Regions from separate parts of the Homo sapiens genome. Here all the other regions are reported to be linked to region 3. The links are microRNA targets in miRTarBase. Many come from high-throughput screens and were not tested one by one. Region 3 holds a microRNA gene; each other region holds the end of a gene's coding sequence.
The links. Region 3 holds the annotated microRNA hsa-miR-7852-3p (UAUGUAGUAGUCAAAGGCAUUU, at 2,065-2,086, shown strand). A microRNA usually pairs through its seed, bases 2 to 8, with sites in the 3' UTR of a target mRNA and lowers its output. Matches are read on the target gene's strand: a 7mer-m8 pairs with bases 2 to 8, a 7mer-A1 pairs with bases 2 to 7 and ends in A, and an 8mer does both.

Region 1 (3,107 bases), not on the chromosome of region 3:
TCCCAGAGATCGCCGCCCAGGAAGAGGCCTACGAGGAGGACGCGGACCCCGAGTTTCCGGAGCTCCAGATGGACTCCGCAGCCGGCTCAGCCGCTGGGCTCTACTCCTCCGCCAGAAGTATGTTCAGCCCCTACCGGGAGGGCCCCATCCCAGAACCCTGTGCTCTGGCCCCCAACCCCAGTTCAGAGGGACACTCTCCAGGCCCCTTCTTCGACCCGGAATTCCGCCTTCTGGAGCCTGTCCCCAGCTCACCTCTCCAACCTCTACCTCCCTCTCCGCGCGTGGGGAGTCCAGGTCCCCACGCGCACCCGCCGCTCCCGAAACGCCCTCCGTGCAAGGCCCGCAGACGACTGTTCCAGGAATGAACTGCTTCCCACAATCCCTTGCCACCGGCTGCGGGTTCTTGTGGATCCTCCAAGACTCACTGTGAGGACTTGCCACAGCCCGGAAATGCAGCATCTTCATTCATCGACAGCGGGCAGTTGGATTACTGTTGTTTGGGTGGGTTGGTTGGTTGGCTGGCTGGCTGGTTGGTTTTTTGGCAGAATTCCTTGGTAAGTGGCAGGCAAGGACATGAAAAAAGAAAAGCAGATTCTGGTAAGCACCTTTACCAAGAAGAGTAGACCACACATAACCAGTCATGGATTTTCAGATCCCTTGCCTTTGCTGCAGGAGCTGTTACTTCTGCCTTTGTCACCTTCAGCCAACTGTATCCTCAGTTTCACCCCTACTCTTGCTTAAAGCTCCCTTCAGTTTTCTTTAAAATTCCCCCCTTTTTTTTTATCACTTCCATACACCTATCCGTTCTCTCCAATCCAGATCATTGTCTTTCCTTCTTTTTGCAGTTAGGAATTTACCTATACGATTTCTCCCAACATCCTCTGAGGTGCTTCTGACCACTGATTTTATTTTCCACTTGCTCTCCTTAACTCCTTTTCCTGGACCTGGACAATCAAGATAAATGCATATTAGATTAGATAGTAAACAAACAACATTCAAATGTAATGAATGCACTGGACCTTTTGGAAGTGTTTCTGCAAATAAGAATTTAAGGGCCGGGCGCGATGGCTCACGCCTGTAATCCCAGCACTTTGGGAGGCCGAGGCGTGTGGATCACCTGCAGTCAGGAGTTCGAGACTAGCCTGGCCAACATGGCGAAACTCCGTCTCTACTAAAAATACGAAAATTAGCCGGGCATGGTGGCGTGTGCCTGTAATCCCAGCTACTAGCAGGGATGAGGCAGGAGGAGTGCTTGAACCTGAGAGGCAGAGGTTGCAATGAGCCGAGATCGTGCCATTGCACTCCAGCCTGGGCAACAGAGTGAGACTCCATCTCAAAAAAAAAAAAAAGAAAACGAAAAAACAATTTAAAAATTAGTGAAAGCAATATTTAATGAGGGAAAGTAGGAAGTTGTGACACTTTCATTCCAGCAGCATCTTGTACAATGACATATTCTATGTACTTTAACCAATGGGTATTCCTGAATTTCAGGGCAGTGTGGGCTTCATCTTGATTTCCTCTCAGGGGTACTCACTCACCTTCACCGCATGGACATTTGGTCTAATTTATTTTTGAGAGTTTTTTTCATGCTCTTGAGTCCATCACCCTGAATTGGCAGTCGTTATTTCTTAGTATTATTTCCTTAATGTCTTTTTAACTATAAAGGAAAGGAAATATTACAGATAATGTTGTCATATCCTTTGATCCCCACTCTTCTCCCCCATTCCCAGGGGATTCACATCATGACACAAAGTTGATGGATATCATTCTAGTCAATATATGAAAGCTACATATACATATATATATGTATAGATATAAATAAGCAATGTTTATGTTGTTTTCTGGACAATTAAATTTACATAACTACCTCATATTCTCCAGTTTTTTTCTCAACTTTATTTTCGAGATGACATAAATATGTGTAGTAAATTTCTTCTAAAGATTCCAGTATCCATCATATGATTGTGATATTTGTTCTTTATTTATTTCTTTATTTGTTTATTTATTGGAGACAGGGTCTCATTCTGTCACCCTGGATGGAGTGCAGTGGCACAATGAGTGGGCTCAAGAGATCCTTTGCCTCAGCCTCCCAAGTAACTGGGACTACAGGTGCGCACTCCCACACCCACCTAAATTTAAAAAAAATTTTTTTTTTAGAGATGGAGTCTCACTATGTTGCCCAGGCTGGTTTCAAACTCCTGGCCTCAAGCAGTCCTCCTGACACAGCCTCCAAAAGTGCTGGAATTACAGGAGTGAGCTACCGCACCTGGCCTCAGATTTATTTTTATTTCTTTTTTGTTTTGGGGGGTTTTTTTTAGATACCAGGTCTCTCTCTATCACCCAGGTTGGAGTGTAATGGCACAATCATAGCTCACAACAGCTTTGAACTCCTAGGCTTAAGCAGTCCTCTCACCTAAGCCTCCCAAGTGGCAGGGACTACAGGCACAAACCACGATACCCAAATAATTTTTTTAATTTTTTGTGGAGAAGGAGTCTTGCTCGGTTGCCCAGGCTTGTCTTGAACTCCTGGGCTCAAGTGATCCTCCTGCCTTCCAAAATGCTGGGATTACAGGCATGAGCCACAGCACCTAGCCTCAGATTTCTTAAATATGACACCGAAAGCACAATCCTTAAAGAAATAATGTGATGACGGGCCTCATCCAAATGAAGAACTTTTGTTCTCCAAAGACACTGTTAAAATGAAAAGATAAGCCACAGATGGAAAAAAAACATATATTCACAACGCAAATATCTAATAAAGGACTTGTGTGTCCAGAATAACACTTTCAAAATTGAGTAAGAAAACTCTTTAAAAGAAGGCAATAAAATCAAGACACTCAAAAATACAACCATCACAATGACTAGCATCAAATTAAAGATTATTAAATATATGAATGTGCAGCAAAATGTGACCCATAAACAGGAGTAAAAATAGTTGATAAAGTTCTTTATTTTTTTTATATTAGCCCTTTATCAGATGTGTGGTTTGCACATCTTTTCTCCTAATCTGTGGGTTGTCTCCTCATTCTCTTGTTTCCTTTGCTGTGCAGAAGCTTTTTAGTTTGATTCAATCCCATTTGTTTATTTTTGCTTTTCTTGCCTGTGCT
Region 2 (3,107 bases), not on the chromosome of region 3:
TTATAGCAGGGAAGGGAACCACAGGGCAAGTGGGGCCCAGCAGAGGGTGTTGGGGGCCCTCCAGTGGCATGTGAACAAATGCATTGTAGGGGAGTGAGTGGCTCTGGAGGCCCTGCTGACTTGGGAGAACAGCAAGCTGCCCTTGTTTTCCCTGTGGATGCAGTATCTCCAGCAGACACTTAACAGTTCCAGAAGGACTGGACACGTGGCCATGGTAAAGGCTGTGTGTAACCATTGAGAAACAGGCAGATCTCAGGCAGAGGGGGGCCTTTAGCATGAACCAGGGGAGGTTGAGGAGTCGGGAAACCCAGCCATTAGGTGCAGGTATGTCACACAACCTCCAGCCCTCATGCACAGGATCTGCCTACATCCCTTTACCTCTCCCCCTTGACCCACTGTCCTCTTCTCACACCAGGTCATGCAGAACAACCACATTGCCTCGGTGACCCTGTATGGCCCCCCCAGGCCTGGTAGCCACCTGAGAACAGCGGAACTCCCCTAGGGACACCACCACCCATGCCCCTCTGTCCCGTGGAACTGTGCATCACATCCTGCTCAGTGGGCCTCTGTACCACCCTGTGGGTTTTCTTGGACACCTGGCCAGTGCTGAAGGGCTGTTGTGATGTTCTGAGGTTGGGCTCAGGCTGGGTGCTCTGCCATGGGCTGAGTGGCCCAGATATTCTTCTGTCCATCTTTGGCCTGCTGGTGCCAGCAGGGGACACAGACTGCAAAGAGAAGCACAAAGTTTGAGCCTTGATTCCTGGACCCAGGAGCTCTCAACTAACAAGGAGGCAGGAGAGGTCAACCCTTGTCCCATGCACATTGGGAAGACTTGGGGCTCTTTCTGTGACTGAGGACACAGGCACCCAGGATAAGGACAAGGTCCTGCCTTTGGCTCCACATTGCCACATGACCCTTAAGGCAAGCAGGTAGCGTGTCCATAGTACTTGGTTGCGACATTTGCACTACATCCACTTTAGTTACTTGATGAGCTGGCTGTGGCCAGGGTGGCCCACCTGCCCTTCCCTGTTCCTTTCTTGCACGCGCTCCCTGCCTGGGCACACCAAACTGGTTGAAACACAGCTTTCTACCATCCAGGTACATGCCCAGGCCTGGTTCTCACCCCTGTTGGAGTCAGCTTTCAAGATTGCCTGTGCCCCTGCTCTGCCCCATCCTGGCTGGCAGGGCTGCATGTTTCCATCCTGTTTGCCTCTTTTATTTAATGCCAAAGTTTTAGCCAAAGACATCTTCCTACTTTTGTTGTGTTTCAGCATTCTGTTCTGCACTGTGGGCTGGCTCTCTGCCCCAACCCTGGGCACTGGCCCCTGGCTGGGCCATTTCATGGCTCAAAGCCTCTGGGGGCTCAAGGAAGGCTGGGCTGCTCAGTCCCTTCATGGGTCTTGCTAATGGAAAGTAGCATATATGTGCTTTAAAAATATTAATCCTTTTGAAAAGAACTGAGAAGAAAAATGTATAATTTTATCCCATTTTTAATATTTTGGTCTAGCAACTTGTGATACATAGATGACAATTTTGTGAGTTTTTCAAATGTGTGTACAGATTTTTGTAAATATGACTCTTTTGTAATTAACTCATGTACAGCCTCATCCTGTATAGTTTAATGATGAATGTGCAGGGGACCTGTCTCAGGCTCCTATATGGTTCCTGGGCCTTATAGCCAGGTTTGTGTGGCGCTCCCGACTTTTGTGACTGACTGGTGTCTTCCCATTTGGACTGTGGCCTGGCCAGAGCCCCTTGCATATCCCCACTGTCAGGGGCAGCCAGGACTGTTCCCATCCTCCTGGAATGGGGGAACCTTCCTTATCCCCTGCCCACATCCCCTCTCCAATAAAGCACCTGTGCCCTCAGCAATGGCCTGCCATGTGCTGTTGCTGGGATGTTTGTATTAAGGTAAGTGTGGGTATTGGTTTTTTGAGCAAGGGGGTGGTTGAAGCATATGGGGAAATTAATAGTGGTGGCATCTCAGGGGAAGACATTCCTTGGCTCCTCTGAGGGGATACAGCCTCCAGTGGGAGACTGGCATTGTTGTGTGAGTTCAGGAGGTGAGGAAAGACTAGGTAGGACCGTGCACTCATTTGTCCCTTATGTGTGGCTCCATCCCTGGTGCTCAGCCACACCTGGGCCCAGGAGAGGTTGTGGGAAGCATAATATCTGTTTTCAGATGAGCTATGGCAAAGTGCCTGCCAGGTTCATGAATTCAGGCTGTGGCGGCCGGAGCCCCTCCACCTCCCTGTGGGGCCTGGCCTTGAGAGCCTCTGCATACGTCCGCGTCAGCCTAGGGGGTTCCAAATCCAGCAGAGTGGTAGGATTCCCTAAGTCCCTGCCACCACACCAGAACACACCTCTGTGCTACTAGGAGGACCAGACATATCCACTGCTCTGGGACCTGTTGGACAAGAGATGGTCATCTACCACCCAGCCTTGGCTCGCTCAAAGGGTCACCATTACACGGGTTTCAACTGGTTCCAGCAGGGTGGACCGCCAGGAGCCAAGCTTAACCCCCATCCCCTGGGATCCTGTGGAGACAGGCACCTGGTGATCAGGGAAGAACCACATACACGGCAATAATCTGGGAAACCGGCTCCATTCTGGGTCTGAGTTAGGAGCTTGGGGCTGTAGTGGGGAGCTAGGAGTCCCATTGGAAGGGGCCTGCAGCGACAGGCTGTGGATGCGCACAGGCTGGCCCATGCGGCCCGTGCAGCAGGCGCCACATAAGCCAGATGTCAGCGGCCGAGAGCCCGTGCACTACAACCAGCTCACGGTAAAAGCAGGGGTCGAAGGTGCTCAAATGCGGCGCGGCTGAAGGCTGGGGGATGCCAAAGGTGCGGAAGGCAGGGTGAGGCTCGGGCGTGAGCCGCAGGCGCTGCAGACACATGCCCAGAAAGACGTCGTCGATGGGGAAGAGCTCGACCTGCGCACAGGCGCCAGCCAGGCGGTGCAGCGTGGCCCCGGAAAGCACAAAGCCACCGCCGCCCGCGTAGGCCGGATAGGCGGGCAGGCCGTACACGGCCTCGGGGATGTAGTACTTGCTAGCCCGCGTGCGGATGGGCCGCGCATGCACAATTACGTCACCAGCAAGCAGGTCT
Region 3 (3,000 bases):
GGAATCGGACTCTCACCCATGGGACGTGAGTGGGGAACAAAAATCAATATTATTTCCTCAAAGGTGTAGAAAACCATGGCTAACATTTGTATTCCACTTACATTGTACTTATAATGGTACTTTTTCACATTGCTTGTCATCTGCTGTTATAAAAATAATGCAGGAATCTGAAAAATAATAATTAGTAGAACTAACACTTACAAAGGTCTTACTCTGTCAGACACTATCCTAAGCAATCTTATCCAGTTCTCACAGCTACCCCCATTTTACAGATGAGGAAACAGAGGTAGAGAGATGTTAAATAGTTGCCCAATGTCATACAGCCAATAGTTAGAGGAGGTAGGATTCAAACTGAGGCAGCCTGGCTTCACAGTTACTAAACTATGAAGTTACTAAACACCTCACTATGCCTTTAGACTACCCAGTGACACAGGAAAGAAAAACTGGTATTATTGGCCACGTCACTGATTTCTGTACACTTGTAAAAGACTTACAATAAATAATAGAGTAGCATTTTTATTAAATAGTAATCCCACCCCAATCATGTGTCCTTGCTCAAAAATGAATTAGTTATAAATTTTGCATATTTTTACACAACTGTGAAATTTTATACTTAATAAACATTAATCACATAGCAATATGAAAATTCTTTATTGTTACTATGCATACTGAACTCACAGGAAATTACCCCTGAAACAATTCAGCAGTAACACCAGGAAACTGCTGCTACACAGAAAGTGCTCAATGAAGTGGCACCAGAAATGTGGCCCAGCGGGGATCCATTTTCAGCTTGGACTTCTTGCAGGAAGTAACTCTCCGTGCCAGAGGTGCTGCCACACACTTTCTCCCATGGCCACAAGCACCTGCAGGATTCTAATTCCATCAGAACAACACAGATACATAATGTTCAATTTAGGCAGCCAGAGCACTGCAGAACCATGGAGCCATTTCTGTAACTTACTGGTTGGCAACCTGCATTTGGCAGAACATACTGGACATATATCAAATGTTAAAAAGAAATCAATTGATAAAGCTCTCCACTTAGAGACACAGACTTACTTTGAGCAAGTCCTTAAGAAAAGCAAGTGGAGTGCCTCTCCCCATCCCCACCCCACCCAAGAGCTATCAATCTTCCAATCAGGATCATCACTGTCCTCTTTCATCAAATTAATCGCACAGCAGCCATTATTACCAACTTGATATCTAAAATGCCACGTACATTCTCTGTATTTATTGTACTGTTATTATTGTTCTGTGTTAGTGACTTTAACTACAAAAAACTTATATAAAGACTTTAAGGTATTTACTCACAAATTTGCTCTCCTGCATCTATGTTTACTAGAAAGTCCTTTAGTTCCTCAAACACAAAACCTCCTGCCACAATAAATCTAATCGCAACCCAAGCCTCATGTACTAAGATCAAGATCAGCAGAGGTTGGAGGTGTGTGATTCTATATGGTTGTTGTAATTTTATATTTAAAAAGACTGGCAATTTTGTTATTAATCAGGGATATAATCTGTATTAAAAAAATGGCTACAGGAATGTCATGTTCCGTTCCATTTATACCACTTTTCAGACTTAAACTGTTTTTGTTATGTATTAGAGGGGAAATATGAAACATTTGCCAGTTAGTTTACAATGGATCACATGTGGGACTAAAGAGTTTGACTCCAATCATTGATCAGATCTTCAAAAAAAGCCCCTCTCCAGAAATAGACAGGAAAATAAATCTATTCTGTACAAGACACTGCACAGCACTCAACAGATAGAAGGGTGAGAAAAACAGACTTTCACCCAAAGAAATCCACAGTCCACAATAAGGTTTAAACAGTACCCAGATGGCAACACAAGGAGCCGGAGCAGCACTGACACCTGCCATAAGTGCTAAAGACCCAAAGTAACTGCCACTGTCCTGAGAATTCCCAAGGGAGGAGGTTTGGCTTGGCCTTGCATCTCTGTTGCCTAGAGACACAGCAGTAAATATATATTGAACAACTAAATTAATAAATGCCTTTGACTACTACATACATATGCCTACTACTACTTTCATATGTAGGCATATGTATGTAGTAGTCAAAGGCATTTACATACTTCATACAAAAAGACCACTGTGTCTTAAAAGATCAGCTTTTCTCTACAGAGAAAACCATGAGAATTGAAAAAGTAGAGGGAGAAAGAGAGAAAAGACAAGAAGAGGTGAGTATCAGGAGCAACAGGGGAGGGAACAGGAGCAACCAGGACCCAGAAAGGGCATATGGAAAGCTGAGAATGCCACGAGGGAAGGAAAAGGAGGAAGTGAGGCAGGAAAGGAGCTACCCACACAGCACCAGGGTCGCAGTTTAGTCAAGAAGGCTTTAGCCTCCTCTGGGACTTCTAGTTACACTATTTGGCGTCCTGCACCACCTCAGGTGCATTCACCCTGCCCATGACACCACGGTAACTCAGTAAGTGCATAAACCATAGACTGCAGTTCCTCAGAACCGCTTATCTGAGACAGCATGCTGGTACTTCCTGAATGGCAGCCTGGCATTCTGAGATTATACTCTTCCTTCATGTATGGTGCTAGAATCGGTCCTCTCCTTTATGAAATGAAAGGGATAGTACACATTAAGACATATTTTATGAAATTTTATTGCTGTACCTTACTTTCTAAAATCCCCTCTTGCTCTTTTCCCTACACTGTTCAATAAAACCCAAAGTCTCATAACCACTAGAGTGTGCCACATCTTAAAAGATTTTTTATGAAAAGCTAAAAAGTTTAAAATATGAGTATGAAAACCCTTACCTAACTTGAAAACTATTAGGTAAAATGTTTTGTTCTCCAGAGATTTTAGATAAAAATAGGTTTTATTACTCCTTTGGGCAAAGAATGTCATTATTAAATTAAAAAAAAAAGGAAGCAGATCAAAACTCAGCACCTGTTCTATGACCTCATTTTGGAAAATATGGGGGAACGAGTATCATCACGTGAATACATATATATAATGCATGTATACATG
Region 4 (3,103 bases), not on the chromosome of region 3:
ATCCTTGGGTTCTAAGGGACAGCCAGGCCCTAGCACCTCGGCCTGGGTCAGAGCCTGCAGGCCACAGGGGAGCAGGTGCAGGCTGAGGATTCTTTGGTCTGCAGTCACTGGGCTCCCTTTAGTGAATGCCCCAAGCCTCATACTGAGGAGGATTTGTCCAGCCAGGCCTGAAAACACAGCCTTCCTCCCTCTATCCGGGGAACCCTCTCCTTTCTCTGAAGCCAGAGAGACGTGTGCAGTCTCCAAGCCCACCCACAGCTGTCCGGGTGGGTCCCTAGCCTCCTGGAAAACTCCTTGGGCCCCAGGTACTGACTGTTTCCTTGCAGCCGCCCGTCCCCACCAGCCGCCTGCCGGGCGCCCTGAGGATCAGTCACTTAGCCATTGCTCCGGAGACTCCCGGGAATAGGCCAGGAAGGACCCAGGACCAGCCTCCTCCGGGGAGAGCCACGGAGATGGTGCCGACCCGGGGCAGTCAGAATGTGGAAAGTGAATCATGATCTGTGCGGGCAAGGGAAGTGCCACGAAACGGAGCACCAGGGTGTGCGTGCTCTCATGTGTCCCGTGAATCAGTGCGCCCCTGCCCCCTGCGGCTCCTCCCGCCAACAAATGTGCTGTGTTCCCAGAGCTGTGCCCGGCCAGGCTCGCCCACCCACAGAAGCCCAGGATCTGCCACCTGTCGGGAATGCGGGGTTAGGAAATGAAAAACAGGGTTCTTGTCCAAGATCATTTATTGTTATTATTATTTTTCTCTCTTAATTGGATTCAGCGTTTCTGGCTCCTCACACACATCCTCTCTGGTGGGGGATTCAGGTTTGTGCAAAGCACAAAGGAGCTTGTACCCACCTGGGCCCCCGGCCAGCAGCACGGCCGGCTTTGATCGGAGCCCCTCTTCCCTGTCCGGGCTCGCCTGCCCCAGTCCCTGCTTCTGACCCCTGAGTCCGGCCTCCCGAGCCTCTGCCTGCACCCTGAGCATCCCCAGGACGGCTGGGAGGGCCAGGTCTTCCGTGATGCAGAAGTGCCTGAGATGGTTCATGAAATGCCCTCATTGTTCCCCTTCTGCTAAGGCCCCCGACGCCTCCCTCCTGCTGTCCCACACAGGGCCCTTGCTGGGTCACACACCAAACAGCCTCAAGGAAAAATTCAGCAGCTGAGCCGTGCGGGAGGCCTGGGCTCAAGCCCGGAGTCTCCTTGGCCCGTCCAGGCCGTCACTGACCAAACGCTAGGCTGACGACACGGTCCGACCCTTTGGACTAACACTGTGGATGCTGCCTGGCCTGCTGGTTTCCAGATCCCAAAGCCCCTTCCTTCCCCTTCTCCATCTCGCTCACCCTCGGGGCCTGGCTCCCTCATATACAATAAGCTGCTTCTCACTTCTCACCCTGAAGCCAACAGCTACGACAGCAGGGGTGACAGGGCGCTCCAGGGTGGCAGACAGGCTTGTGTTGCATATAAAAACAAGGTGATGCTCTAAATATCTAAGAATATTGGTCCCCCAAAGTGACTCTTGCTGCCTCCCCCTTCCTCACCGTCCCGCCGACACCTTGCCCCAGGCCCTTGGCAAGGCCAGGTCCCTTGGAGACTATCGTTGCCAGTTTGGGATTCTAGACAAAAATTCTATCACTTTGTTTTTGCTAGAAATCACCAATACAATCCTTAGTTCAGCAAATACAGTTTTCTGTATAGTTTATAAACATGAAAAGACGTACAGTTAGGTAACGGAGTGGGAGGGGGACTGTGCATTTGTGTATATATATATATATATATATATATATATATATATATATATATGTAGAGTGTGAATATATATAAGTGGACGTAGTTAGTTATAAAACTGCACCTTCTGTGAGAACCTCATTGCCCGGGATGAAGTTCTAGATTTCAGCCTCTGATGATCTTTCCTTTGGTAATTGGTTCTTGGACCCCAGCAGTTGGACCTGGGTCTGCCAGGGTTGCCTGAGACATCAGGAATGAGAGGCGCTACCCCCGAGGGAGGGGCTGAAGGTGGAGTAGGATAGAATTCAGGGCAGGGTGACTGGCCTCAGGCAAGAGCCAAGATGCCACCTGCTCGTGTGTGCCCAGACTGCTGGCCACCCAGCCTCGTGGGTGAGCCTCATTTGTTCTTCTCTGCGTCCTGCTTTCTCCAGGAACCACGGGGCCCTCCAGACCTCTCGGAACGATCGGGATTCCACAGAGCCCCGGTGCCGCCGTCGGGGGCAATTGTCCCACTGTTGCCAGTGGAGGATGCACTTGGAGTGCCTTTTCCCACCTTGCCAGAGTGGACACTGTCCGTGGGCGCTCTGCGGGGCTGGCTGGGACAGCCGGCTGAGAAGCGCCACCCCCTCCCGCCTAGGGCTGTACACTTTGGGTTTATAATCCACATGGCAGGGTCCAGACGTCCAGACAGCAGCCGAAGGCTCTACCAGCCTTTTCCTGAAACCCAGCAGATCTTCCACTTGTTAAAAAAAGAAGAAAATAAATTCTGTTCCTTGGTGGACATGTGGCAGTGCTGGGTGCTGACGCCCTGGGTCCTCAGCGGAGAGTGACCGCCAGCCCCAGTGTCCAGGCCAGGAGGGAGGCCCCCAGGGAACTGGCCGAGGAGGCCTGCTGCACCCCGCTGGGGGCACGGATGGGGGTCCTGCGGGCACACTTGCCCTTCCTCTTGGGCCGGGCCGTAGGCATGATGTCAAAACTGAACTTGTGCTGGTAGTCTGGGGCATAGTCTGGCAGCTCGGGGGCCTGTTTCCCGGCGCCCGCCTTAGAGATCTGATTGCGGTTCCTGGGGTTGGTGCAGTTCTTCCCCGGCTTCCTGTGGCCGGGCCGGGGGCCGTGCGGGTGGCCCTTGCTCCTGGTGGGGCCGTGGGGTGAGTGGTGTTCCTTGCGGGCGGCCCTGTCGGTGGTGGTGAGCGTGTGTGACTTGATCTGGTGCGGGGACGCTGGTCCCGTGCAGTTCCGGAAGTCCTCGGCCCTCAGCAGCTTCAGGTCCTGGCCGTGCCGCAGCCCAGGGGACACACAGGGGACAGCGGAGCTGGAGCCCCGGAACCTCTGCAGCCATTCCCACAGGGAGCGCGCGCGACAACCACAGTCCCAGGGGTTGCCGTTGAGG

Region 1: the mRNA of PRR23A is a reported target of hsa-miR-7852-3p. Seed matches in the 3' UTR shown: 7mer-A1 at 1,787-1,793.
Region 2: the mRNA of PHAF1 is a reported target of hsa-miR-7852-3p. Seed matches in the 3' UTR shown: 7mer-m8 at 965-971.
Region 4: the mRNA of RTN4RL1 is a reported target of hsa-miR-7852-3p. Seed matches in the 3' UTR shown: 7mer-A1 at 1,786-1,792.

Annotation. Positions count from the first base shown.
Region 1 is chr3:139,002,726-139,005,832 of GRCh38, reverse strand. PRR23A (proline rich 23A) reads left to right here. Exons shown (of 1, transcript NM_001134659.1): 1 at 1-1,871. The coding sequence ends at 365. Among named protein-coding and RNA genes, the nearest start is that of PRR23A, 2.0 kb to the left of the region's middle.
Region 2 is chr16:67,146,630-67,149,736 of GRCh38, forward strand. It overlaps PHAF1 (phagophore assembly factor 1), which reads left to right. Exons shown (of 16, transcript NM_025187.5): 16 at 416-1,915. The coding sequence ends at 502. B3GNT9 (UDP-GlcNAc:betaGal beta-1,3-N-acetylglucosaminyltransferase 9) reads right to left here. Exons shown (of 2, transcript NM_033309.3): 2 at 1,475-3,107. The coding sequence ends at 2,648. Among named protein-coding and RNA genes, the nearest start is that of B3GNT9, 2.8 kb to the right of the region's middle.
Region 3 is chr1:107,895,218-107,898,217 of GRCh38, forward strand. MIR7852 (microRNA 7852) reads left to right here and starts at 2,006; the gene lies at 2,006-2,087. All of the region lies in intron 1 of VAV3 (vav guanine nucleotide exchange factor 3), which reads right to left.
Region 4 is chr17:1,933,967-1,937,069 of GRCh38, forward strand. It overlaps RTN4RL1 (reticulon 4 receptor like 1), which reads right to left. Exons shown (of 2, transcript NM_178568.4): 2 at 711-3,103. The coding sequence ends at 2,530. Among named protein-coding and RNA genes, the nearest start is that of RTN4RL1-AS1, 82 kb to the right of the region's middle.